2 linked regions of the Homo sapiens genome follow. The main gene of each other region encodes a partner of the protein of the gene in region 2 in a complex. Each region holds a gene or a part of one and is shown on either strand. Other genes may lie near its edges.

Region 1 (12,262 bases), on a different chromosome or scaffold from region 2:
TATATAGAGCCAAGCAGGCAGGCCATGGCCAGGGATGGACACTGGCTTCTTTCACCGGGAGACCCCGCCCCTGGGCACACAGCTCCCCCAAGCCAGCTCCAGGGCCCTGGGATCCTCCTCCCCCTGTCCTGAAGGAAGAGGACCAGGGGACCTCTTCAGAGACAGGGCTGTCTCAGGTCCCCAGTGGACAGTGGGTGCTATCCACAGCTTATACCTGGAAAGGCCCAGTTTTTCCAGGGCCCAGGACAAGACCCGCCCAGGCATTTTGAGGACCCTTCCCCAGAGGGAAGGCACAGCCCATCCGGCTGCCCAGTCTCTGAAATCCTGCTCCCCCACTCCCCACCCACCCCACCCTTCCTCCTCCTCATTCTCCTCCTCTTCCCCACCCCCATCCTCTCGCCAGCTGCAGTCTGGGCACAGCACCAAGACAAACGCTGTCTTGCTGTCCACCCGCCTGGGCTGGCCAGCCCTCCAGAAGGCGGAGTAGGGTGGTTCTTAAAGGGCCCAGTACAGCACCCCTCCCACCCAGGAGGGGTTCCCCAGTGGTGAGAGGGGTGGAGGTGGAGGGTTGATGCCAGTGTGGTTGCAGAAGCCTGTTTGGGAGGAGGAAGGGACTCCAGACCCTCTCCCCCTATCAGGTAGAATCAGATACCCACCTTTGCTTCACATTTTCTGTGCGTCGCCACCTTGCAGACTAGGGAAGGTAAGGGGAGGAGAGGGGTTAGCAGGGGCCTGTGGGACAGTGGAAGGAATGGCCTTCCCTCATCTCCCAGACCCTGGAACCAGACCCTGGGACTTCCAAGATCCCACCTGGACTGGGCTGGCTGGGGCAGAGGAGCAGGGCTAGGTTTTGAGGGAAGAGTGTGGCAGTGGGGTACTACTGCCCAGGCCAGGGGTAACGTTCCAGGGTGGGTGGAGGTGAGGAGGAAGAGAGGGAAGGAAGACTACCGTCACAAGTCAGGATGGGAAGGTGATGGAGAGTACTGGCTCTCCTGGGTTATGGGAGGTGTCTGTCATGGGGAGCCAGGGCCATCTGAAGGGGGAGGCAGCTGCTTCTTAGCTGCCATTGTGCCTAATCCAGGAGCAGCATATTACATTTGAGATTGTGTGAGCTGGCCTGCTGGAGTTGTGCAACACAGTGGTACTGGGTGGAGGGTCTCAGAGTCACAGGACAGAGAGCCTCACCTCTGCACGAAACGCCTGTCCCATCGATGGTCACCTTACATACTGCACAGACTGGAGGTTTCTTCCGGAAAACCTTCTCCCGGAAGCTATGAGGCTCAGCTTTCCTAGGCTGAAGGTGGAGGGACAAACAGAGGTGTGAGTTCCCAGTGGGCCCATCTCCATCTCCGGGACTGGGCAGGAGCCTTGCCTTAGCACTGCACTGGTTTTCTCCGTCCAGATCAAGCCCTCAAACTTGTAGGACGCACTTGGCCACAGCTGCTTCAGGGCGGTCATGGGGCCTGTCCTCAACTGTGCATGGAATCTGACCCCTTGCGTCACCTTTGCTGGGTCAGCTCCTCCCCAGGGGATCACTTGGGCCCCTCACATGGCCCTGGTGTGTGATGCCCTTGTGGAAAAGCCTCCATGCTCAGGCTTTCCCCCTGGTGTGGTAAGGGTACTCCCTGACTCTTCCCATCTTGTCCTCCCCGCATGGAGACCTGTGTGCAGAGTGAGCAGGGAGGTTCCAAACATATGTGTTGTATGTCAGTCCTGCAGCACCAGACTGAGCCGGCAGGAGTGGCCTCAGCCAGTCCTGCTCCTTTAGCTCCTGCTGTCCCCACGCTCCAGGCAGCTGACATGCCCTCCTCCCCCACGGTCAGAACAACATGTTTACTCATTGTGCACTGAGGCAGCAGACAGCAATTGTGTAATGGGGGTGGTCATGCTGGAGGGAAACAGATAGAAGCCTGTCACTGGGGAGAGATGTTTAGCTGGCTTTGGATGCTGTGAGTTCTCCCCCGACCCCCTGCACCCTGGCACTTGGGATTCACGCATTGAATGAGAAAGGAGTGGACCAGATTCCCTGTTCAGCCCCTCCTGACCCAGAGATGCAGTGAGGCAGGAGCCTGGGATGCCCCCTTATGGCCCAGGCCTATCTCAGTCCCTTCCCCTCCCACTGTGGGTTCTCTCCTCCCATCCTCTGTCTGGGGACAGCTTGTCTCCTTGCCATCTCTCTGTTTTACCCATATTCCCCCTCCTCTGGAGTTCAGACTCCTGCTGTCCTCCTCCCGGGGACCCATCACAGTAGTATCTCAGGTTGTCCTGAGCTGCTGCTTTTGGGGCAAGGCTGGGAAGTTGGGAAAGGGAGTGATGGGGATGTGGGCAGCACCTCTGGTTTCTTGACTGTCCCTGCAACTCTTCTGGGCTGGATCAACTTTGTGGGACCCACTAAGACACTTGGGAGCATGTTGGCATTAGCAGCAGATATGGATGTTGTCAGTGGAAAGCAAACCTCCAGTTCCAAAGCACTCCTGACTCCCTCTCCTCTCTCTTTTTCCACCCTGCCACCCCATTTCCCTCAAACTTCCCTGGGCCAGGGAAGGGGCCTGATGATCTCTGAGCCTGCTGGAGGATACCTGGATAGCGCATGGCAAAGTCCTGCAGTGAGGCACCTGGGGCTTATGTTGGGGGGCCAGGACCTCCTGGGGTTGGCCCAGGCTAGAGCAGGGAAGGTGAGAGGAGCCAAAACAGACAGCAGGACCTACTCTAACCCAAACATCCCCTCACACTACAGCCCTGGCCACTCCGGAGGGGATGCTGGGCCAGGGAAGAAGGCTGAGGAAGCTGAAATTGGGAAGAAGGCCTGGCCTGATTCCTGGTCCCCTCCCCCACTGCCCGCACCTCCACCCCTGCCCCTCTTTTGCCCAGCTGGTGGGCACTCCTACCCTGCTTGCGGCCCGGCTGCTGTCCCTCCTCCCCAGGGCTCTGAGCAGCCTCTCCACAGGGCCGCTGGACTTCATGGTGTTCGGCTGGCTGGGGTGCTGGCCCCAGGGCCTGAACAATGCTGGGGCCTGGCCCGGGGCTTCCTGGAAGCGGCCTGGCGGAGGCAGCCGCTTCCCCTGGGCGGAGGGTAGGCTGTCTGGCTGGTGTGAGGAGAAGCCCGGCCCTGGAAGTGGAGGGAAGTGCAGGCGGGAAGGGGGCAGGTCGCTGCTCCAGGAAGTGGAGGGGGGAGGATGTGGGGGAGGCCAGGAGATCAGATTCCCAGGATCTACCCTGCTGGGAGTGTCAGCCTGTGATCTTTTGCTCCCCCTACTCCCCCAACTCTGGAGTTGTCCCACACCTGGGACACCACACTCTCCAGGGATCTGCAGGGATCCATGGTCTTGAGATTCTGCCCCCACCCCCGGTGGGGCCGGGTGAGAATTCTGGTCTCGGGGCAGGGCTAAAGGGCAAGTGGGGAACAGTGTGTCCCAGCCAGGCTCCAGCCTGAACTCTCAAGCTCTCGAGGGACTTCCGCTGGGGAGGGAGTGGAGCTGGGAACTACTACCAGCAGGCAGGCCCAGGATCCCGAGTGTGTCCTGAGAGTCAGGTAAAAATGGGACTGGGGGCCCCCTTCCTGTCTCAGTTTCACTCGTTATGAAGTAGGAAAAGGAAAGCATGCACCGCCCACCTTTACCCTCAATACACCTTGCAAGGCCAAGTTCCAGCCACAAGACTGCTTTGCTCAGGTTTGGGGAGTAATCCATTCTCCTGCCACAGCCTAAGGCATATGAGGCCCTTCTCCTGAAAGCCCCCAGGTTTCTGCTCCTGACACAGTGCCCCCCACTCACCCATTCCCTGGCTTTGTTTCAGACATGATCTCACAGATCCCTAGCCCTCTTTCCAGCCCTGCAACTTGGGCTCTCTACCCAAGGGCTGCACCCTCCCCCCGCGGCAACCCCGAAGCCTGAGTACTACCTTCATGGCTCTCCTGGGTCTGCTCTCCTTCCTCAGCAGCTGTCCCAGGGCCTGAGGACTGGACAGGAGGTCCCCCCTCCCAACACATACTCCACCCCCATCCATGGGCCTCCGGCCTCCCTCCTGGGAACATGGCCAACTTCCCGTCCTGGGAGTCAAGGGAGGGAGGTGGATGGGGCCTTGAAAAAGGGGGAGTAATCTTCCTAAAAGCTAAGGGGTTAATGGCCTGGGAGTCTTCAGCCCCAAGCTGTGGACAGCAGCCCCTGGGACAGGCTATAGCTGTCACTTGAAAGAATGTGCAAATGTGCCCCTCTCATTTGCATGGTATTTATTGAATGTCCCAGTACTCAGGCAACTCCCCCAGCCCTGGCTTCTCCCACGGAGTCCCTTCTACTTGCTTCCTGCTCCTTCATATCCACCAGGATGGGTTCCCTGGGATGAAGAATCCTGCATTCTCTGGGGTGAGGCCTGCTGTGGGTGCCCACTTGAGACCCTTGCGAGGACCTGACTGGATTGGGCCTAGCCTGACACCTCTCCCTGGAAGCTCCAATTTTCCAGGCCAAGAAATGTGTCCCCAGGATATCCTGGCCAGAAGGTGGCATCTGTGTGGCAGGCCTGGGCTCCCTGCCTGTAACTGGAGAGGAGCACGGGCTCTGTGACCCACCCCCATCCTGCCAGCCTGGCTGTGTCCCAGCACATTCCAGGCCCCCGGCCAGTGTGGGCAACCGGGCCTGGCCTTGTCGAGCCCCCAGCCCTGCTTGGGGGAGATGGGGCAGTGTGACAAGGTGGGCAGTGGGGGTGGCTTTTTTCTGTCCAGTCCCAGCTTCTGCTCCTATGGCACATGGCCCTGACCAGGACTCCTCTACATGCTTCACTCTCCTGCTGCCTCCATAGGGGCTGAAAGTCCCCTCACCTGGAACAGGTCCCCAGACATCCTCTCACCTTCACTGGTCTCACACTCCCCACCCAGACCCAGCAAGGAGGTGCCCAAGCAGTGAGCTCGGTGAGGGGTGGGGTGGTCAGGATCCACTGTGGCTGTGAGTCCCTCCCATCCTGTGGCACTCGCACCTCGGAAGGGAAGCAGGGATGGGATCCCTATGAGCCAGTCCCGAGGGGAAAAGTAGCTCACTTGAGGAGGGCTGGGAAGGCATCACTAGACCCTCTTGGACCCTCACCCTCCTCCCGCCTGTAACATTCCAGAGCCTGTCAACCTCTCCCCCAGCCGGGCCCCCTCTCTCTCCGAAGTCTTGGGTTTGTTTGGAGAAACCCCTCCACCCACACCCCCCTTTCTGGAAATAGCTGTGGTTGGAAGGGAGGCTGGGAGCCCGGCCGCCGCGGAGGAGGGGTAAGGCCCAGGGAAGGAGCGAGGGAGGGCGGCGGCTCTGGGGGTGTTCCCAGAAGGGTCTGGAGGATGGGGGCAGACTGGAGGGGGCCGCAGAGCGGGGCTGGCGAGTCGAATCAGCCTCATCTGTGCCCGCTTACGGCCTCTGTCCCACATGTGAAGCAGGAAAGGAAAACGTTCGCCCGCACCCTGCCAGGCCGGGGCCCGAGCGCCGCTGCCAGCTGCTGCCGGGTCCCGGGCCTGCGTGTGTGGCACGGCGTGCGGCCCCGTGCGCCCCGGGTGCTGGAAGGCGTGGCGGCCTGATCGAGTAGGGCCGCGGCCGCGCCCCGCCCCCTAGTCACTGTCCCGGCCTCCCGCTGCTCCCAGCTCTCCGCGGCCAGCCAGAGCCCCCGGCCCCAGCCCTGGGCCGCGCCCCGCGCCCCGCGCCCTCTCGACCTCCGGCGGCCCCGCGCCCCCTGGCGCCCGCCCCTGGCACTGCCCGCGCGGCCGTGACGCAGAGACCGCCGCCCGCCCAGCGCGGCGCGGCCACTCACCTGCGGGGGGCGCCCGGCCGGGCGGGGGCGCGGCGGGGCGGGGCAGCAGCAGGGGGAGCCGCCGGGCCAGCCCATCCCGCCCGTGCCCGCGCCGAGCGGACGCGGAGGAGGAGGCGGTGGCAGTGGCGGGAGCGGGCGGCCGGGCTCGGCTGGGCTCCCTCCCGCCCCCGCCGCGCCCCGCGCCCGCGCCCGCGCCCGTGGCAGCCCGCTCCTCCTCCTCCTCCCTCCCGGCTCCAATCCCCACGTTCCGCCAGCTCCCCACCCCTCGGCCTCCTCTCCTCCCCACCTTCTCCCGCGAACCCACACTCACAAAGAGCCGAGGGGAGAGAGGGTGCGCAGACGGCCAGCCGGGCCGCGCCAGGGACATACTGGAGACAGGAAGTGGCTGAGAGGGGGAGAGAGTTGGAGAGAGACGGCCGCGGAGGACACGGGGACGGGAAAGTCTGAGAGACGGGGAGAGCCTGACCCGGCGGGACACAGGCAGAAAGAAACACGCGAGCCAGACAGACGCAGAAGAAACGGTGGGCGTAGGTCTAGAAGGGACTAGGAACAAGGGGACAGGGAACTGCCGCGCAGCGTCAGCCTCTTACCCTCCCCACAGGAGTGTGCCTGGGCTTGGGCCTGACCTGAGAGGACCACCCGTGGCTTAGCCTGGTGGTGCTAGCGTCCCCTACCCAGGCGGGCGCCTGAATCAGGTGAAGACACCTGGTGTTACTTTTGGCCCAAGTCATTGGACACCCTTCCCTGGTCCTCTGCCCCACAGGAGACTTCTCCTGGGCTAGTATTCTCAAAGGATTCACAGCTGGGGACCTTTCCGTCAGGCTCAAGCCCCCATCTCCACCCGCAAGCAGCTCCAGCCATCCCATCCACTGCCCTGCTTTATTCATTGAGACGGGAGTCTGTCTCTGTCGCCCAGGCTGGAGTGCAGTGGCGCCATCTCGGCTCACTGCAACCTCTGCCTCCCAGGCTCAAGCGATCCTCCCACCTCAGCCTCCCGAGTAGCTGGGACTACAAGATGGGCGCCGCCACGCCCAGCTAATTTTTTGTAGAGATGGGTTTTCGCCATGTTGCCCAGGCTGGTCTCCAATTCTTGAGCTCAAGCGATTTCCCCTTCTTGGCCTCCCAAAGTGCTGGGATTACAGACGTGAGCCACCGTGCCCGGCCCATTGCCCTATTTTAAAGAGCTGGACCGTCATTCCCAGTTCGCAGGAGACCTCTGAGAAGGTCTTCCTTACATTTAACTTGAGTCCAGCCTTTCCAAATGGAGATGGAAGTTCTTTCTATGGTCTGACCTCATTCCCTTCTTTTGCAGTGCCTGGTACTGGATAGGAACTTCATGGAATGGAGCTAATGGGCCGTAGGGCAGGTTTGAGTCGTGCCACCCTGGAGCAGAAGGTGGAGGGTAGGGATAAGGTAGGGGACATCTTCCTAGAAGTTCTGAACCTGTTGCCATTCCTACATTCCCCCAACGTCCTTTAGCAGTGAGCACTTCCTGAAACTTTCTCCCTCCTTCACCCTCCCTGCTGGATTTTCCATGATGAAAAGGGGCGGGGGGAAGGAAGGTTGGAATTCTGAGAACCCAGTGCCCAGGGCTCAATGCCCAGTGCTTGCCCAAAGTAGCCAGTACCACTGGCTCTAAGGCCTTCTTTCCCTCCCCGTCTCATCTCAACTGGGTCCCTTGTCTTTGGCAAAGGCTGAGAAGTCTGGTTCTCATTTCCAGGGGGTGGAGCACCTGATTCCAATCTTGCCACAGGGAAGAAGAGTCTGTGAAGAAGTGCGTGATGACTGTGTGTCCCCCCCCACCCAGAAATTGGCATTTGGGAGGGGTGGATATGGTTGGGACTGGGGAGCCTTGATCTTACTGCTCTTGGTTGAGTTGGTGTCCAATAGACAGTTTCAGAGGTTAGAGCAGTGGGAGTCACTGGGGACTGGGGACAGGAGAGGTGGGGGTGGGGGAAGCCAGGCGGGAATGAGTAGGGAGGCACTGGGAGGAGGGGAGAGGCAAGAGTTAGGGGAATACCGAGGAAAGTGGCAGGGATTGGAGGCTCCTGGAGAAAGGGCAAGGCTGAAGGTTGTCCCATGTATTTTGGCCAGATTTGATTATGTAATCGAGAATCATGAGATAATTAAGTGTGTTCATGTCTCTGGAGCCTTCAACCAGCTCTTTTAACATCTTGCTCTTCCCAGCATTCCTTAGGGTCTTTGGCTGGGCTCTGGGATGGATGCCATGGGAGTACCTTTACTTAAGCTCTAAAGTTACCAATGGAGAGACTGGGACTCAAAGAGGAACTTGATTGGACCCCAGAGAGGTGAGGGGTAAGGGCTAGAACCTCACACATGCTGGTTTTGCTGCTGCCTGGCAGGCCCATGGGAAGAACTTTAGAGGTTCCAAGGAATTGGAAAAGGGTCACAAGATGGGTGGCCAAACTCCCAGCTCAGGCTTGATTCCTACTCTCAATGTGGGGATAGTGGAGAAGGGGGCTGCAGGAAGGGCTGAGAAAAGCTGAGAATGAGAAGTTATACAGGAGGTAGCTTGGTGGGAGTGAAACAAAAATGAGTGGTTCATGGGCCAGCCAGGCATCCTGATTTCCAGCTCACAGCAGCAGGAGCTTCAGAGAGGAAGAAGGAGAGGAGGAGAAAGCCAGGTTGATGTTAGTAAAGGTCAAACAATTTCAGGAGCACCTCTGACCTCCCTCCACACAGGTTTTCTTACCTTGACTATGCAGAGGGTGGTCCATCTTGGCACTGAAGATGGAACCCCCTCTTCCATGGTCTGGGGTGACCCCATGCCTGTAACTGAATGTGCTCAGATCCTTGGGGTGCGGGGACTGTAGGGGGAGGATTTGAAGGTGTGGGACTGTCCTGGCTGGAGACCACTGGGTCAGGAGAACTCCAGTAGAGGGTTTGGGTGCTGGGAACCAGGAAGAGTGGGGGAAGGGGCAGAGCCAACTCCAGAGGCGGATCTCCTGGCTGAGGACAGAGGGTGTATTGTCCAAGCTGGAGGTTGCTGTAGCTGGGCGGGGAGCAGCTCAGCTCGTCTCTTCCAAATTTCTTTTGGGGGAGGGTAAGGGAAGGCAAGCCCCCCTTTACTTGTGGCCCTGGGGGCTACAATGGTTGCTGAGAAACAAGGCTTATTTGACAAATAATGCTTCCCAGGAGCAGATGTGTAGCTCTCTCACTTCCTGAGAAACCAGATGCTGTGAGCTCGCTTAGCACTTGAGGCGACGCCCTCAGCACGAACTGGGACCCTAGTGCCTTGGGATCCGGAGTATAGTGCTTGATTCTATTGAGAAGAAACGAGGCTAATGTGGACTGGGAGACACACGGGACCTAATCAGCCTCAAGTTAGCCCTTTTGAAGTAGGTTGCTGCACCTGCACTTTCCCCCTACTCGTCCACTAGTTCAAGATTTACAAGACGTTGACAATGAGGGCTGACCAGTCCTGGGTCCACTCCTGCAGCTGGGGGGCTTCTCGGTGGACCCACACTTTTTTTTTGAGACAGGGTCTTGCTCTGTTGCCCAGGCTGGAGTGTAGTGGTGTGATCACAGCTCACTGCAGCCTTGACCTCCTGGGTTCAAGTGATCCTTCCTCCCAAGTAGCTGCAACTATGGGCATACACCACCATACCTGGATAATTTTTCTATTTTTTTGTAGAGACAGGGTCTTGCCATGTTGCCCTGACTAGTCTCAAACTTCTAGGCTCAAGCGATTCTCCTGCCTCATCCTCCCAAAGTGCTGGGATTACAGGTGTGAGCAACCATTGAGACAAGAGTCTCGCTCTGTCACCCAGGCCGGAGTGCAGTGGTGCGATCCCGGTCCACTGCAACCTCCACTTCCCGGGTTCAAGCGATTCTTCTGCCTCAGCCTCCTGAGTAGCTGGGACTACAGGTGTACACCACCATGCCTAGCTAATTTTTGTATTTTTAGTAGAGACGGGGTTTCACCCTATTAGCCAGGCTGGTCTAGAACTCCTGACCACATGATGTGCCCGCCTTGGCCTCCCAAAGTGCTGGGATTACAGCTGTGAGCCATGGCACCTGGCCACACACGTCTTTTTAAATTTAAATGAGGATGTGGCCATATTACAGCCCAGGTTTTCTCTGACTTTAGAGTACCTTTTGGGACATAGGGCCTTCCTCTCTACCCTTTCTGTACACAGCCATCATAAACCTCTTTCAACAAGCCTTTCCTATTTTTATGTTCCTTCTTTCCATCATTTACCTAGACCTCATTATTGCACAGCTGAGAGTGGCTTGAAACAAAGGCTTGGAGAATGTGAGTGAAACTGATTCCTGTGGTGGAGAGGCAGTGAAAAAGCATTACCTTGTAGGTTTCCAGGCAGCCTGGACAATAGGGGCACCTAAACCCACATTGAAAAGCCTTCACATCATCACAGCTGAGTCTCATAGCCTTCAACTTTACCAGTTTTGGAGAACAGAGATAAATGCACTGGCCAGAAACTAGAAGAGCAGCTGCTCCAATTGGCTGGGAAATCATTTAACTGGCTCCTCATCTTGGCTCTTAAATCCCCAAAATTGTTGACTGAGGTTTCCCGGGCTCCTTTCTATGCTCCACCTCCTTGTGACCTTAAGGATTCTCTGCCACTGTCCTAACCCCTTTCCCGCCTTGCAACAATGACCAGTCTGTCCCTAGCTGTTTGGAAAATTCCCACTGAGTCTGTGAGCCTCTGTTCTGGTAACCTCGACCAGCCTGTCACCAGTATCTCTGGTCCACCAGTGCGGTGTAACTCAAGGGAGCAGCATCTCTCCAGATTGCTGAAGTGAGGGAGGGAGATTATGAGGGAACTGCCCCAAGGACACAAGGATTCATTCTTAGAGTTCCCACATCTTGATTAAAATAAACAGTACAGGAAATAGACTGCAGGCACATCCAGGTGATTAAAAAATTTAACACCAGGCAAAAAAAAAAAAAAAAAAAAAAAAAAAAGCCAGAGGGGAGCTAGGATGCAAACTCTATTATTGGGCCTCAATAAACACTGAAATAGATTCCCTTGTAACCCCACCCTCTAATCTTGGACAATATGGTATCCAATACTGAATGAAAACTTCAGAGATGGTAGGAGGAGGAGGAGCAGGTGGTCAATGACTACAGTAAAAACCACTGGGAGTGCAGAGTATTTGTCAAAGAACTTCAGCATTACAATGAACTTTAAAGATCAGATTTATTTGGAGAAAACAAAAAACCCACAACCCAAAGGATGGGATTTTACATCAAGACATCTCCCAGGTAATAAGTCTACAGATTACAAATCATTTTCATAGAAGATATTTTTGTACAAATTTTACATGTATTCAGGAGCGGGACATTAATCAATCCCTGTTTCTATTTTAATAGGGGGGACAAGGTAGGGGAGAGGGAAAAACAGTTTTGGATATAACTATTTGGAAGGAGAGTAGACATGAAGAGGGCAAACCCTAGCTTTTCATTATCTACAATCAATAGTTTGTTTTTCTTTTTTAAAAAAGAAAGAAAAACCCTTTCAATCTTCAATACTCTTTAAAAGCCCACTTCTTAGCTACTGGCCAATCCACACCAATTATTTAAATTCACTTGGTACACACCTTTGTCCACTGGGTAAATTATATTCATTATGCCCACTGCTGCAGCACGCATAAACCAACACCCCTGCATGGCTGAACAGGGCCTAATCTAGGACTGATGGGAGAAGGGCTTGCAAACCAAGATCAAGGTGTTTCTCCGCTAATACTGTCTACCAAGCTGATCCCTACAAAAATGCATATAAAAGCAGGCAAGTTTAGCTACTGTGTTGCAAGAGAAACCAGGACCTTGTTAAATAGTTCTCTCCATTACCATTTATTCTCTCAAGGGAAGCTTAAAAAAACAACAACAAAACAACACATTGGTCTGGCCACCTCATGAATCCAACAAGCATTAGTGTGGCATTTCAGTGGAGAAGGAAACTTGGGGGGAAAAATCCCATCAAGGTTGTAAGAAAGGCTCCCAATTTAACTGTCCCTGTCCCTATTTATCCATCATCCAAGACCATCCATTATTCTAGAGCACTCTGATCAATAAAAGGGGTCCAAGCATCAGGAGCAGGCAAGGAGAACCAAAAGACATCAAGAAACCGATTTGCTTGAGAAAAGCAGCGATTCTTCCTTTCAGAGTTCTCCATGGCTGAGAAAATGCCCAAGACATCATGTATGTGACTTAGATACTGCTTTTTGGGAGGTTAAGAGTAGCATGAAGAACTTAAGATGATGATAAGAGTCTAAATTTTTAGTTTCAAGGTTTCAATAGAATGTGGATATATTCAAAACTTTCAAAAAGGACAGTGTTTAGAAAGGGTAAAACTAGGACACAGAAAACACTGGGAATTACCACGACCCCCAAGTGCTTCCGGCTCCAGGAAATAACCATTCATGTGTTTGCTGGAGGTCACACAATTTTCCCCTATTACCTGGTGCAAAATGACTCATCACTTCCCAAAAGCTTCTTTTCAAA
Region 2 (15,168 bases):
CTCCAGTCTTTAGCCTAGGGAAACAAGTGTCAAAACAAGGGGATTTGGGAAGCACAATCTTCTCAACAGGCCTGTGTCATTAAAACCAGTGCAAGCTTAGTGTAAAATAATACTGTTATTATGAATTTATCTGCAGAGCTATATATACCTACCCTGCTTTACATTCCTTCCCTCCTTGTCGGCTGATACTAAGCTTATTCACAAGCTAATTCCTTCATTGTCCTTGCTTTCATTCCACATATCTTGCTACATTAGTCTGGAGGCTTGGCTTAACTATCTTTTAGGTTTTCATTTCTTGTTTTAATTTATCTTTTTAATTAAAAATTTTTCAGTTGATACATAAACATTGTTTATAATCTTATGGGGCACATAGATGATGTTTTGATACATACAATGTTTAGTGATCAGATCTGGGTAATTAGAAGAGCCATCGTTCCAAACATTGATCATGTCTGAGAACATATGTGCTGAGAACGTTCAATATCCTTCTTCTAGCTATTTGAAACTATGTATTATTGTTAACTATAGTTACAATACTTGTTATACTGTTAAATATAATTACAATATATTCTATACCTCTTTACATTGTAAACTTATTTTCTAGAACTTATTTTCTTTAAATAGTTCCTTTCCTTTTATATTGTCCCAGTCAGCCTCCTACTTTGGTTCATTCCATTTTCTGCACAATTTACTATCTTCTTTATGTCACCCATTGGTCAATGTTATCCTCCCCTTGTTACAAGTCTCCCCCATCAGCATTCAGGGGATAGAAAGGAAAGAGAGTATCATTTCAGGTATGGGAGTCCTTTTACCAAATGTTTGCATATTTTAAATATAGAATAAGGAGAAAATATTTGATTTTTATCAGTCATAGACAATGTATTATGTTTTCCAGAGATGTAAAGTACAGTATGTACAATATAATGTTTTATTCCTGGACAGTTTTTCTATGAGAAATGATATAGCATCTGATAAACATCACTTAATATATCAAATAGTTTCATAATGAGGAAAGGTATTCTGTTGCATGAAATTAAAGCACCTAGTGTTTATACAGAATACCACAGAACATATATGCAGCTTGGTTATTTCTTTCACAACGTGTCATGATATATTGGAATATATTTATGTTAGAGTGTATTCCTCAATATTTATGTTATGAGTTATCTCTCAATATAAATTGTCCCTTACGTCTTTGATAATAGAACTTTTAGCAAACATATGCTTGTCCAGAATGCAGATTCCAATGGTCAGTTCCTTTATTGCTAGATATGCCCATGCAACTAAATTCTAGCCCATGAAATTGCAGTGAAGCCGACGACCTGGGTACTGCCTGTACACAGGGTGCGATCACCCCTGTAGCCTTTTGCCTTCCCACTGACTTGAATGTAGAGGAGGACTCGAGAGCAGAGAGGGTAGATAAAAGGGGTGTGGATTCTGAAGGCATAGAGCCTATATATTAGTTCAGAACTTCTTATCCCTATTTTATGCGTGTGAGAGAAATATGTCATTTGAACCACTATTATGCTTTCTGAGATAGCAGCCAAATCTATAGCCTAATTAATACTGAGATATAGGCCGGGCACAGTGGCTCACACCTGTAATCCCAACACTTTGGGAGGCTGAGGCAGGTGGATCACTTGAGGTCAGGAGTTTGAGACCAGGCTGGCCAACATGGCGAAACCCCATGTCTACTAAAAATATAAAAATTAGCCAGATGTGAGGGTGCACTCCTGTAATCTCAGCTACTAAGGAGGCTGAGGCAGGAGAATTGTTTGAACCCAGGAGGCGGAAGTTGCAATGGGCGGAGATCACACCCCTGCACTCCAGCCTGGGTAAGGAAGCAAGACTCCATCTCAAAGAAATAAACAAACACACACAAACCTGAGGGATAAACTAAGACCCTAACATTCATTTAATTTGTTTTTGGAATATAAGGTTTTTGTTGGAATGTAGAATTAGGTGTCTTCTTAAAGTTCAGATTATCTTTGCATCTTTTTTGGAGTTTATTTTGCTTTGTAATATGGATTATTTCTTGTCTTATGTGAGCAAATAAACATATGTTCAGACATTTATATAATTATTATGGTTATTCAAAAAATTCAGAACTATTTAAGTAGTCTTTACAGAAGACTGAATTTTGTACTCTCTCTAATTAGTAACCCACTTCTTTAAGAAAAAATGTCTAACCTCAAGTCTTTCCCTAAATGTTTTCCATCTTCACATCTCATCTGGTTTAAAGAGACCACTTCTTAGACTGTCTCCCTCCTCCAGACTACTTTGGAATTTGTCTCAGAATTGCTTTTAACCAGCCGCCTCACCCCAGAGACCAGCCAGGCCCTGAGTGCTGGTCATATGTCACCCAACCTTATGGCACATTCACTAACATTTGCTCACAATTTGTTTGGTTTTCCTTTGATATCAGTGGCTTCAATTTCATTATATATTTCATCCTATTTAGAGGAATTATTGGCTTAAAAGGTCAATATTTGTGATCCCCTATATACTACATATATACTAAAAATAAAGGTATATACTTGTACATATACTACAAATGTAATCCCCTCCAATTGAGACTCCTAATAAATATACGTGTGACTAAACCCTGGTAGTCTGAAATATCATCGGAAACTAAGAAAACTAAGCTTTGCAAAACGATGAATGCCTGCTAAGATTTATGGGCTTCAAGGAAGGATAATTTTTATTAAAAGTACAATGATATCTCTAGAGCACTATTTCAATACATTTTGAAGATCCCCCTTATAAGCTCTTTTATTTTTTTCTTCAGGTCTTAGAACTTTGATGTGATCTTGACAAAAGAAATCAATGTGCACAAATTTATTGAAGGATTTGATTCAATCACATGATTATCAGATAATGAGCTGATTACAATTCCATAACTAAAATGATATTAGCCTTAATTGATTTCACTTTTCCAAGTTCTTATCTTACGGGTATTACTATGGCTGACAAACAGTTTTAAATATATAGACAATTAGCAAACTCTTTCTACCACTTGACCATTTGCCACTGCATTCCCTACAGACATGAAAATGTGGCACATGTGTGCCTCCAAAAAACTTATCTCTTCTAAACCAGTTGCACTAGTATTAGACATCAACTAGATTAGAACTCTTGTTAATAGTGTGAAAAACTTTATAAATATTTGTTCATAATTTATAAAAGCAGAATCATAATAATAATGCAGATAAAAGGTTGTTTTGTGCCATGCAGAAAATGCCTCAGCTTATATACTAAATATTATTTTATTTTTGTGTTTCTGTTCAGTGTATGCATTTCATACATAATTCTGTGATCTTTTATAAAGATTATATGGGGTAAAAAGTGAAAACCCCTCCTGTTCTTTTAATTCCACTCATCCAATGTAATTGCTGTTAACAATTTTGTGCCTATTTAGCCAGGATTTCACATATTATTCAGCCATACAGAGAGGTTTATATTACTATCTACATTCATATATATATACACACACACACACACACATACCTACACACACACATTTTGACATTAAGATTTGGCTGTCTATACATATTGGTCTGCTACTGTTGTTTTTCAGTACTATATTATGAGCCTCTTTAAAAGTTAGTGTGCTTGGATCTGACTCCATGTTTTTAATGAAAGCACAGCATTCCATACAATAGATAAATAATTAACAAATTCTTAGACCATTTCCTTTTTTTTTTTTTTTTTTTTTTTTTTTTTTTTGAGATGGAGTTTCGCTGTGTCACCCAGGCTGGAGTGCAGTGGTGCAATCTCGGCTCACTGCAAGCTCCGCCTCCCGGGTTCATGCCATTCTCCTGCCTCAGCCTCCCGAGTAGCTGGGACTATAGGCGCCTGCCACCATGCCTGGCTAATTTTTTGTATTTTTAGTAGAGACAGGGTTTCACCATGTTAGCCGGGATGGTCTCGATCTCCTGACCTCGTGATACGCCTGCCTCGGCCTCCCAAAGTGCTGGGATTACAGGCATGAGACACCGCGCCTGGCCTAAACAAATTCTTTATTGATGCAAATGTAGACTGTTTCATTTTTCTTTCAGTAACATGCAATATAGTGATGAACACCTCTGTACATATCTTTCTATGAATATGCTCTATTGTTTCTTCTGGTAAATTTCTAAAAATGGCGAATTGCCAATTCAATGGTATTTTAACACTCATCCAATAATGCATAAAACAAAAATTCTTACACGTTTTAGTTCTAAGGGCTTCTCACATAATTGTAGTTTTCTAGGATAAATTCCCAACCTAAAAGTTTTCATTTAATCTATTTATTAGAAGGCATCCTAAATGGGTTGTAGAGTTAAAGTAAATATTCCATCAGGCAATGTCACAACACTTTAGAATGACAGAATGCTTAAAATAGAAAATTTAAGTTAGAACTTGTAAATGAGATATAATTATAACTCTCAAAAGGCAACCATGCTATAGTGACATGTCCAAGAGTAAATTCTTTCCAGCATTCTTAGTATTGATATAAATGTTCAAGTGGTGAGTATATGTTTCTGGAATGTTTAATGTTTCCATTGGCAGTTGGGTGGAGTTTGTTTTATTTTAGGGGAGCTATGCCATAGGTCAGTTAATACTGTCTTATGTCATTACAGCATTCCCTCAAACAGATTTGATAGGATATATGAAAGTTTTTGAAAAAGTGATCTAAACAGTTTAATCATAACAACTTTATGGAGCATTAACATTTTCATAAAACTTATGTAAGGAAGTGAGAGTCTGCCAGAAGCACAAAATGCTCTGTTAGCATATAGCTTGTGGACACTGATTTTTGCTGTAAAGTCTTTGACTTCATTTAAACTAACTCACGACACATTACTGATCTAGTTTGTAAGCAAAACCACAGTCTATGAAAACCAGATTTCTTCACTACAAAGAAAGTAGTAGATTTTTTTTTCTCTCTCATGGTAGATAGCCCCAGTTGAACAGAACAAAGAACATTACTTTTGTGTTTAGGAGAATTGCAGTTATGGATGAATGTATCAAGAGAGGGGCAAGGATATATGTTTTAATCAGTGCATACCAGTGTCAAAAATGCAGGGTTTCTTCCATGCCATTGGCCATGTGGGGTTTATAGAAGAAGAAACTGTGCTTGGACTTATATCAGGACTATAACTCACTACAGTTTTTGGAAAAATGTGGGGAAATTCTATAGAAAAGACAGGTTTTGGTCAAGGGTTCACTTGCTAAACCATAATTCAGGTAGCACCATCTTAGCCCTTGCTTCTCTCACTTGAAAGCTTCGCAGGGGAGGATGGCATCTTTAGAATTAGTCAAAGGGGCTGTAGCATAAAACATAATTGTGGTTATTAGCCTTTTCTGGTTGACAGTTAAGTAACAGTTGTGGCAAGAAACAGAGACTATGATATATATATTGATGGTGAGTGTGCCAGGGTATCACTTAAAATGGCACCAGCACATTTTGGGGGTGGGAGTAGTTTAGCCTTTGTATATGTGAGGGGATTATTTTAAATATGTGATTTATACCACCTTTTTTTCTTATGAAAACATAGTCTTTTTGAAGAGAAAAAGAAATATGCCCAAATAAATGCTATAACAGTACCATGACTTTCTTTATAAGAATTAGAAATCACTCTACAGAATGCCTTGAATTGCATGTCTATGAGCTATCTAGTGGCTATTTAATTCCAACTAAAGAAAGGGATACCAATCCTGTTTTCAACACAATTCTGAAATAGAATATTCATAAACCATTATACACATTATTAGTGAAACGGATAGATTATTATTCTTTAATTTTTACATATTTTGATGGTTTGACCAAGTGGGTAGTCGTTGAATTACACATCTGCATAACAGGGCAAAAGAACCATCTTCATATCTTTTTAATCCAAGCAAAATGATAACTGATAAATCCAAGGATATTTACAAAATTTCAAAAGCCAGAGAATCTGTGCATATGTCTTACCTTTCTCTTACGAAGTCTGACTTGGTTATCTGTGGGTTCCTGGGTGGCCAGGGTCTCCTTTAATTGTAAACACTGCATGCCATCTTCTGCCTTGACCTTTGGTGGACTTTTGTTTTGATGTTGTGAAAAACCACTCTTCTCCAGGCCATTTTCAGCTGACATTCCATTGGGGCAGGAAGGAGGCTGCAGAAGGCAGCTTCCAAAATCTGTTTTTAATAATGGCAGTCCTCTGTTTGTGCAAGGAGTATCCAAGAACTCATTTTGTACTACATTGCAGGTGCTTCTTTCATTTTCATCTTTAGGGGGGTCAGGTTTCCTTCGTTGCTGAGCAATTACAGCAGAGTTAAGCAATTGTTTCTCAGGTGCAATATCTTTCACGTTCAAAGTATCCACTGCATTTACTTTGGGTGCATCTTTTATTTCACTTAAGCTTATTTCATTGCAAAGCTCCAGGCTTTTACTTATAGAGTCAGTAACTTTTCTCTCCCCACTTTCTTTTACCAGTGCTAATTCAGTTTCACCAGCTATTCCCCAGGAGTTAGAAGAAACTTGGTTACTTTGTATGATGGGCAGTGCCTTTTCTAAGGAGCCTGCTCCTTGGATCATATGTTGGCCTGATGTTTTCTGCCCTTGGGTATTTAAAACCTGTTTATCATCTGTAAGGCATAAATCAGCATTGTTATCCTCATCAGAAACATGCACTAGTGTTTCTGTGCTGGCTTCCAGAGAAAGAAACTGATCTTCACCTTCATGGCTGTCATTTTCGTCCACATCCTTTGAAAGATGACCCATTGGCCTCCCAGGAAAATCTCTCAGCTCTGATCCATGACAGCAGTCAGGTAGTGAAACACACTTCTCTTTGCGGTCCACATTTAGAGTTGCATCTTTTTCCATACTTGCCTGCAAGCTGTCAGCTACTAGTCCATGATGACATGCTGTGTTACGATCATCAGAATTAAAAGGCTGTCCCATCCAGTGGGTCACATGTTCTTCCCAGCTTCTCTTTCTGATAGCTACAGACATGTCATCGTAGTTTAACAACAGACAGAGAGATATATTCCATATGAGGGTAAAGGAGATGGAACTTGATGAAAGATTATTTCAAAATCACCAATCAAAGAAGCGAATGAGTTCTGTCATTTCACCACCTATTAAAAAATTCAAAAAAATATGTAGTCGCAGATACGTTTCTAAAGTCAAAATATATCTTAGAAAAGAGAAAACTTAATCTATGCTATCAAAGTTAAGAGATTTTATAAAGCTTCTGTTTAGTAGCTTTAATAATGTCATTTCTTTAAGAAGCCTAATACTAGAAGGAAATTTAACATTGAATATTTCTGATAAAAATCATCAGCAATACTTTTAAAGGCATTTAAAGGCAGTTGGATTGGTCCATTAATGAATAAAGATACAAATACTGAACATTTAAAACTCCATTAAGAAAATATGTGAAATGCAATACTTAATAAAAATCACTGGAAGAAACATTGTTCTGGCTTGCATGTTTTCCTGATTTACTTTTGTGAACACAAGTTGTTAAATAAATCTATTCACTGTTTGGTTTGAATCACAGCGAAAGCCACCAGGGAACTGTTCATGCAAAACTTGAGCTATAGAGACAGCATGTGTAATGTATTAGTGTGTGAAGGAGCTAACACCGAACCCAAACGACCAGTATGTAGTTACTCCAGGGAATGACTAAGAAACATGGAATAATCCAGTTTAGCACATATTAACACAGAATGCATGGATTAGAAAGCATAACACATACCATTTACAATTAGGACAGATACATCTGTACATGCATCCTACTACTGCTACTACTAGCTTGCAAGCTGGTATTTTTGAAGCTTAAGGGAAATTAAATAATTTACTAAAGTTATACATGTAGCAAGTGAGCCGAGATTCAAACTTGGTCCTGCTTCTAAGGCCCAGACTGAGATAGTCAACAAACTTCATTGTCTCCATGGAATTATGAGATTCTACCTTCATCCCTTCTTCCCACATAACTTTAGTATGTGTAAACTCTAAATATTTTATGCAAGAATTCAAGTGAACATAAAGGAAGATATGACTATAAGACAATTGGGACTATTCTTCAGAAACTTCAGTCTCATTCTGTTTGGCTTATAAGAAGTTTAGTTTGCATATTTCTGTTAGAATATGGCCATAAAATTTAAGTAAACAAGAAAATCATGCATAAGACAAGCTTAGAATACAAACACATACCAGGTACCCAAATTTTTGCCTTGAATTCTTCAAACCCTTAGTTAAAGGAAAGAAATAATACCAGTGTCAACTCAACGTTATAAAAATGACTAACCCAAATTTTGCCCCACAATGAAACTATATTATTGGACTGTAAAAGAAAAATCCCATTCACAGAGCAGACACTTTTAGTTTTTACTTCACACGAGAACTGTCAGCACACAACATGGGTTGAGTTACTGATTTCTGCTATAAACAAGATTAACTGCTATACTGATTTTCGATCTCTTTAGTCTATTCTATTGTAAAGGGCCTTGACTCCCCAACAAAAATTTCGAGCTGTTCTGACTAAGCACATGCCTGAGAGGTAAATATTTCCAGTCTGTAAAAACTGGCGAAATTGACATGTGCTAGAATTTTAGTATCCCAGCCTGACCAAGTATCTTTCTGGATACTATTTGGTTCCCTCAGAGGTCTGTGGCCATCTTGAAAAGTGGTCAGCCTTCACATTTTCCATGTTGACGTTCACTCTGCACTCAAAAGAAAATATAAAATCTCTGAATTCCATGCATAAGTCATTATAACGTGGGAGGCTACGGAAAGTGGAAAGAACACATAGATGCAAGCCAGAAAATTTCTGCTTTCATGGGCACATTTGGGAGGTAATAGGGTTTTAGATACTTTTCTCTCTTTATTTTTATCCAGTGTAGAAAGAGCCGGCTCACTTAAGAAATACCAAGTGGTATTACGATGTCACTCCTAAGCCACATTTATATTTTAAGTTGAGCCTGAATTCTGGTTTCATTTCTTTTACTAAGAAGAAATATAGTTTTATTAACTTTTTAGGCAAAAAGAATTACACAAAAATTTTGCCTTTAAGACTTGACAATAATATTCATTAATTTCTGTCACTCAACCTTGACAAGTAGGTAAGTATTTCTGTCAAATCAAAGGAAGATAGTTCAACAAGTTCTGAGACAATCTAACTGGAAAGAGAGACTATAAATAAGATAAATCCAATAAAGCATTAACTCTTCTTGCTTTCATTTCTAATCTAGGTGCTTTCAACATTTCCAAATCATTTCTGTAAGTGTACACTTTTATTTTTAAGATATGCAATTTCTCAATTTTCATAACGATCATTATTACATTTGGCATCTTCATTCATTCCATGTCATGTGGTCTGATAGTTTTTTTAAAAAAATGAATGTCTGCAAGCTCTCCTATCCAGTTTCTATTTAAATTTTGATTTGTAAGATTTATAGTTAAATCTGTCTCTATGATTTAAAGACCAGATTATTAATAAATAGGAGCATTAGATTATTGTCAATCACATCTGAGTTTATAGGTCTCATTTCCTAAATCATCTGAATTGATTATAATCTATCCCCTAATAGAGAGAAATCTTTGTAAAAGACTGACTTCTCCTGTGAGCCTCCTCACTGGGCCGCCTTATTTAAAATTACATTTCAAAAAACTGACTACTTATTTTTCAGATTTCTATTACATTTCTTTTGTAATCCTATTCATGCAGTTTCATTCAGAATGAGCTCAGTTGCTGAGGATTTGGATGGAGGATCTGGAAAATTGTAGGTCATTTCAGGATGTTGGTTTTATGAAGTGAATTTCCATGGGGATTTTTCACTTCTTAAATTCATGTGTTCAAGCACCGTGACATTAACATCACAAGAGACTGTATGTACTTCTAATGATGCTATGATTCTGGAAAATACTTTTGAAATTTCCAAATTTGTGATATTCGTGCATGATTTTGAATTCATTGTTTGGGTTAATTTTGTAACACTTACCATGCCTTAACGTAAGAGTTTTATAGCATACAATATATACATTAAAGTTGAACAAAATTACTGGGCATGATGGCTCACGCCTGTAATCCCAGCACTTTGGGAGGCTGAGGTGTGCGGATCACTTGAGCCAGGAGTTTCAGACCAGCCTGGGTAACATAGAGAGATGATGTTTCTACAAAAAATGCAAAAATTAGCCAGGAGTGGTGGCGTGCACCTGTAGACCCAGCAACTTGGGAGGCTGAGGTGGGAGGATTGCTTGAGCCCAGGAGGTCAAGACTGCAGTGAGCCATGATCGCACCACTGCACTCTTGCCTGGGTGATAGAGCAAAAAAAAATAATAATAAATTAAACAAATTAAATGTTACCGTATTTAACAATTGGAGACATTCTAGTTTGAAAATCACTGATCTATATTTGATATCAAATGATCATGCTCTATTTTTGCACTTGTCTCTGAAATAGAAGACCACCTTATAATTTGGCCTGCCAATTGTTCTTAGAAAAGAAGAGCTTGATAATAATTACTACTGCTGATTCTACAGCCTGAGAGAGCAAGGTGCAGATGAAGTACCACTGGCTGAAATCAAGTGTTCAGTCTGTAGAACTGACAGTAGTTAGTTCATAATCACTATTCATCAAGCATTTATTTAGTACCCAGTGAGTGGCAGAAACTTGTCTAAACATTAGGAATATAAACCTGAATTGTATAGTCTACCTTTGCTACTGAAGCTTACCAATTTTGTGGGAGAAACTCCTGTAGACAAGGATAATAGTTACAAAGAAAGTTCTATCATAGATATCTATCTGTGGTAAATATCTATCTATCTGTGGTAAGTTTTCTGCCTCCAGAACGTTCAAGTCAAATGGTATTTGAGGTACAGTTTCCTACTGGATAGAAGAAATCTTCCTTTCTTTCTGGCTTCAGATTTCTACTATTCTAGAATTACCTCTTTGGAAAAGATAGCAGAGGTAACAATAAATTCCAGAGAATTGCTTGCAACTCGAAAACTCACTAGTTACCTTGGAGGGTAACATTTATCAGAAACATTTCAGAGAATTTTTTTTTTTTTTTTTTTTTTAAGACAGAGTTTCACTCTTGTTGCCCAGGCTGGAGTGCAATGGCGCCATCTCAGCTCACTGCAACCTCTGCCTCCTGGGTTCAAGTGATTCTCCTGCCTCAGCCTCCCGAGTAGCTGGGATTACAGGCATGTGCCACAATGCCAGGATAATTTTTTATTTTTCCTAGAGACAGTTTTCTTCATGTTGGTGAGGCTGATCTCAAACTCCTGACCTCAGGTGATCCGCCTGCCTCGGCCTCCCAAACTGTTGGGATCACAGGCGTGAGCCACCGCGCCCGGCCTTCAGAGAACATTAAGAGAAGAAATTTTTCAAAGAAAACAATTTTAGCATGTGTTCCAGAACAAATGATTCAAGTCTTCCGATTGAAGGGAACTCATGAGGATGCAATGGTACCAGAAAGAACAATAGACCACGTAAGAAATGTCGTTGTGAATTTTCAGAACATAGGAGGTAAGCAAATGGTTCTAAATGTAATCGGAGAAAGAGAAAAAGAGATGATATATTAGGAGCTGGGAATCAATGGTATCAGATTTGTCAAAAGTAACAGTGCAGGGAAGACGACAGGCAAATACGACTTCAAAATTTGGATGGGAAATTATGTCTGCCTTAAAATTATATGAAAAGTCTTACTTTTTTTTTAACCTCTTCTCAAAAGCTACTGGAGAGATAGCTAACCCCAAATTAAAAAATAAACACAGTGGGAAAGACATGGCAAAAGGAAGCCAAGAATTCAGCACAAGTGAGGAAGGTATAGAATTTTCAGGATAAAAGTTGTGTAGCAAGTCCAGTGGTCAATCATTTCACATAACTCCTAAAGTTGTCTCTGGGAGATGTCTCTAAAAAAAGGGAAATAATAAATTATATATGACATATTGAGAGGAATTTTATAATAAAGTCAAGCAATTTGGATGGAAGAATTATTAATAGTTATAGAGAACACTAGGGATATCAATTATCAACCACAGGAAAAATAGTTTTACAAGAAGGAAAATATAATTATAGTATACTCCATAAGCTGTGGCTAATTTTTTTCATGTAGTCAAAATAATGCAAATAGTAAACATTAAATTAACCAAAACATATGAAGCAATGATTTTCAGTGCATAGGATTCTGTGAGGAGTGAGATTAGGGAGAGCAGGGAAAATAATTTAAGGGAGATAGTCACTTTCTGTAGCAGGAAGTTAACAGATAATGTTTAAAATAGAAAAAAAAATCATAGTACAATCATATTGTTTAGAAATACAGAGTTAAATATCAGAAGACATAGCTAAAAATAATTTAAAGTATTATGATATTGTGTGCCATTTGCTAAGAAAGTCTTATCTCTGGATTTCAGAATTCATGCTAAAAATAATTTAAATTTTAAAATGTTCTACAGCAGTAATTTTAAGGTTAAGCTGATGCATAAACACGACTGCAGTTCTTCTGCAATATGTCTGGTGGGGCCAAACCATTCTTTTTGCCCCATTCCCCCTCACCACAGCATCCCCTCGCAATTACACAAACACCAGTCTCATGTACGTAGCAAAGAAAAGGTGCCAGTTTGGATATTTATCTTATGTCACCAATGTCAGCACAATTTCTATGAGATTCTTAGGTCAGTTCTTTCAGTTTCCTTTCCTTCCCTAACTCTCCTGGGGAATTCCTGAAATTTGGAACAGGTATTCTTAGGAATTGTCTAAGCCATAGTTTTCCTAAAATGTTATCTGAATAGAAGTTTAAGATACATAAAATAACATATAAATAGCATTACATTAGTACATGCACATAAATGGGGAATTCTCACTCAAATTCCCACTTTTCCTGAATCCCTCACTCACAGTACTTGGAAAGATGGCAACTTTTGTATTCATCCCATCAAATGCAGGTATCTTATTTTGTCCTTTGAGAATACATGTGATACATATATGTGTGTGTGTATATATAAAGCAGTCCTTTGAGAATACATGTGATACATATATGTGTGTGTATACATAAAGCAGTCCTTTGAGAATACATGTGATATATATATGTGTGTATACACACACATATATACACATATGTATACAAATACATGCACACATAAATATGTATATGTAAACACACACATATATATAAATGAACACGCTATTGACTTCTGGGTTGTGAGAGTGTGTGTGTGTGTACACATATATATTGATATAAATAAATGAACACATGATTGACTCTAGGATATTCTATTAAATATCCTGAATATTTAATGGAAGGGAAAATAAAGACATAACAGTACTGCCATTTTACTTTTCTTTTCTTACTTCTTCCTTAGATAGCTAGAATTACTTCTGGTTTCCCTTAGAGTTTTTCATCCTGATTAGCCATCCCATGTTAAATTTCTAGGTCGTGTTCTCCACCTACTGCTTTATACACATACACACACATGGACACACACACACACACACACACATGTGTGTGTGTGTGTATATATATATATATATATATATATATACACATATATATACACACAGAGAGACACATGCACCCAAATATATATGTGTGCATATGTATGTATATAAATATACACACACACTTACATAAAACAGCTATCGCATAGCATGTGCTTAGTCACTGTGGGAAGGAAGAGAAGATGTAAGGGAAATAATCTCATGTTAATTAAACGCAACTTAACAGTTTCTAAAATGCTCTCTCAGCATATGAACGAAGAAGAAGACACCTCTACATTTGGCACATTTTGTTGCTACGTGGTGAGGGTCACCTTAGTAAGATGCATATGTTGGAAACCTGAATATCTGGTAATGATATGAAATCTTACTGTATCTTAGCCTACTCTTGGGGACTCACACTTGTACATCGTATGTGCCCCCAAAACACTTACTGAATTGAATTAGGCAACTAGAAAAGACGATCAACAACCTGGAAACAGACATGATCACAGGAGCACAACTTAATATAGTTCTTCAACTCATGTCAAAGTAAATCTTCATTACAAAGAGCATTTGTGGAAGCCAAAATGAAACCCATTTTCTTAATGATAATGTCAAAGAACAAATTACCTAGCAAACTAAATTGTGTACATTTGGGCGCCTTCCCACTGGCACACAGCTCAGTGATAAATGAAGAGGAATGCTCTTTACGACCAAACTGACTTGACATATGCTTAGAAGCCAGAAAGCCCAGGGAAGATATTATGTTTCTTAATTCCTTTATGTAAATACACAAACAAATAGCAAAAACCGTAAGAGCACATTTCTAAAAAGCATTTCTATGAGTCTAGTCCAGACAGCCAACTTTCAGTAAAAAACAATTAGTGTTTTTCCTTTAAAATATTCATGTTATCTAATCTAAATTAGACAAGACTAGAATTAGACTGTGGGTGGATAAACATTTAATAACATGATGCAAGAATTTACCTCCATATGATTTCATGCAGATTCCCTTTCTTTAGTAGCAATATGTGTCTTAATCCCACACAAAATCATTATTCCTCTACTTTTACATACTTTGTTTAATGCTGGAATGTACTTGTTATACCTCATTACATGTTAGTGGAAAACATGAATCCCTGTTAAAAGTTTTATTGGCAAATTGCTTAATGGAGATTAAAATATTATATATGAAGTAGCTTCCATGTCTTTAGGCTGTCTGGAAAGCATCAAAAACTTTACCAAATTAAAGAATAAGTCATCTATAATGAGCCAAGTAAGGGGAATAAGTAGTGTTTCACTTTTTCCAAAATACACATCCAACGTTCCATCAGGTTTAGTCTTTAGAAGAAAAATGAAGAAATAGGTACCCAGCTGAAAAATATTATTTTATTGTTAACCCATTTTTAGGTATATCTGAGTTTTTACTCAACTTAAAACATTTTTTTTATTCTTAGCCCTCAGTGATTCAGGCAAATTTGAAAGTTAACTCTTTCAATCCACTAGAAGTCAGCTCATGAGAAAAGAGCAGGGTGTTGCAAAACTGCAAGCTATTATTTCAGCGGTGCTCTATTTTTACGTCCAGGTTGCTGCTATTTAATGTCGCTTCCAGTAGTGTCTAATTTTCTTGCAGAGAGGAGAGCAGATACTGGCAGTGTTTGACTTACCACCCACTTTATGGCTCAAGCCAGCCAGATTTGGAGATTCTCTTAACAT

What was found.
Region 1: the proteins of DLC1 (region 2) and TNS2 are in contact, whole or in part, in an NMR structure (PDB 2LOZ), measured with the Homo sapiens proteins. Residues at the interface, in NP_001335010.1 of Homo sapiens: Glu811, Asp812, His813, Lys814, Pro815, Gly816, Thr817, Phe818, Pro819, Ala821, Leu822, Thr823, Asn824; in NP_736610.2 of Homo sapiens: Asp1268, Leu1269, Leu1270, Arg1271, Gln1272, Gly1273, Ala1274, Ala1275, Cys1276, Lys1317, Ser1319, Ala1320, Gln1321, Thr1324, Leu1387, Asp1388, Pro1389, Asp1390, Gln1391, Val1403, Leu1404, Leu1405, Gly1406.

The regions. Positions count from the first base shown.
Region 1 is NC_000012.12:53,040,887-53,053,148, reverse strand, and holds the start of TNS2 (tensin-2), read right to left. Parts: upstream 3,085-12,262; 5' UTR 2,964-3,084; coding exon 2,889-2,963; intron 1,295-2,888; coding exon 1,186-1,294; intron 695-1,185; coding exon 657-694; intron 1-656. UniProt on the Homo sapiens protein: Tyrosine-protein phosphatase which regulates cell motility, proliferation and muscle-response to insulin. Phosphatase activity is mediated by binding to phosphatidylinositol-3,4,5-triphosphate (PtdIns(3,4,5)P3) via the SH2 domain.
Region 2 is NC_000008.11:13,493,093-13,508,260, forward strand, and holds part of DLC1 (rho GTPase-activating protein 7), read right to left. Parts: intron 7,105-15,168; 5' UTR 6,980-7,104; coding exon 5,957-6,979; intron 1-5,956. UniProt on the Homo sapiens protein: Functions as a GTPase-activating protein for the small GTPases RHOA, RHOB, RHOC and CDC42, terminating their downstream signaling.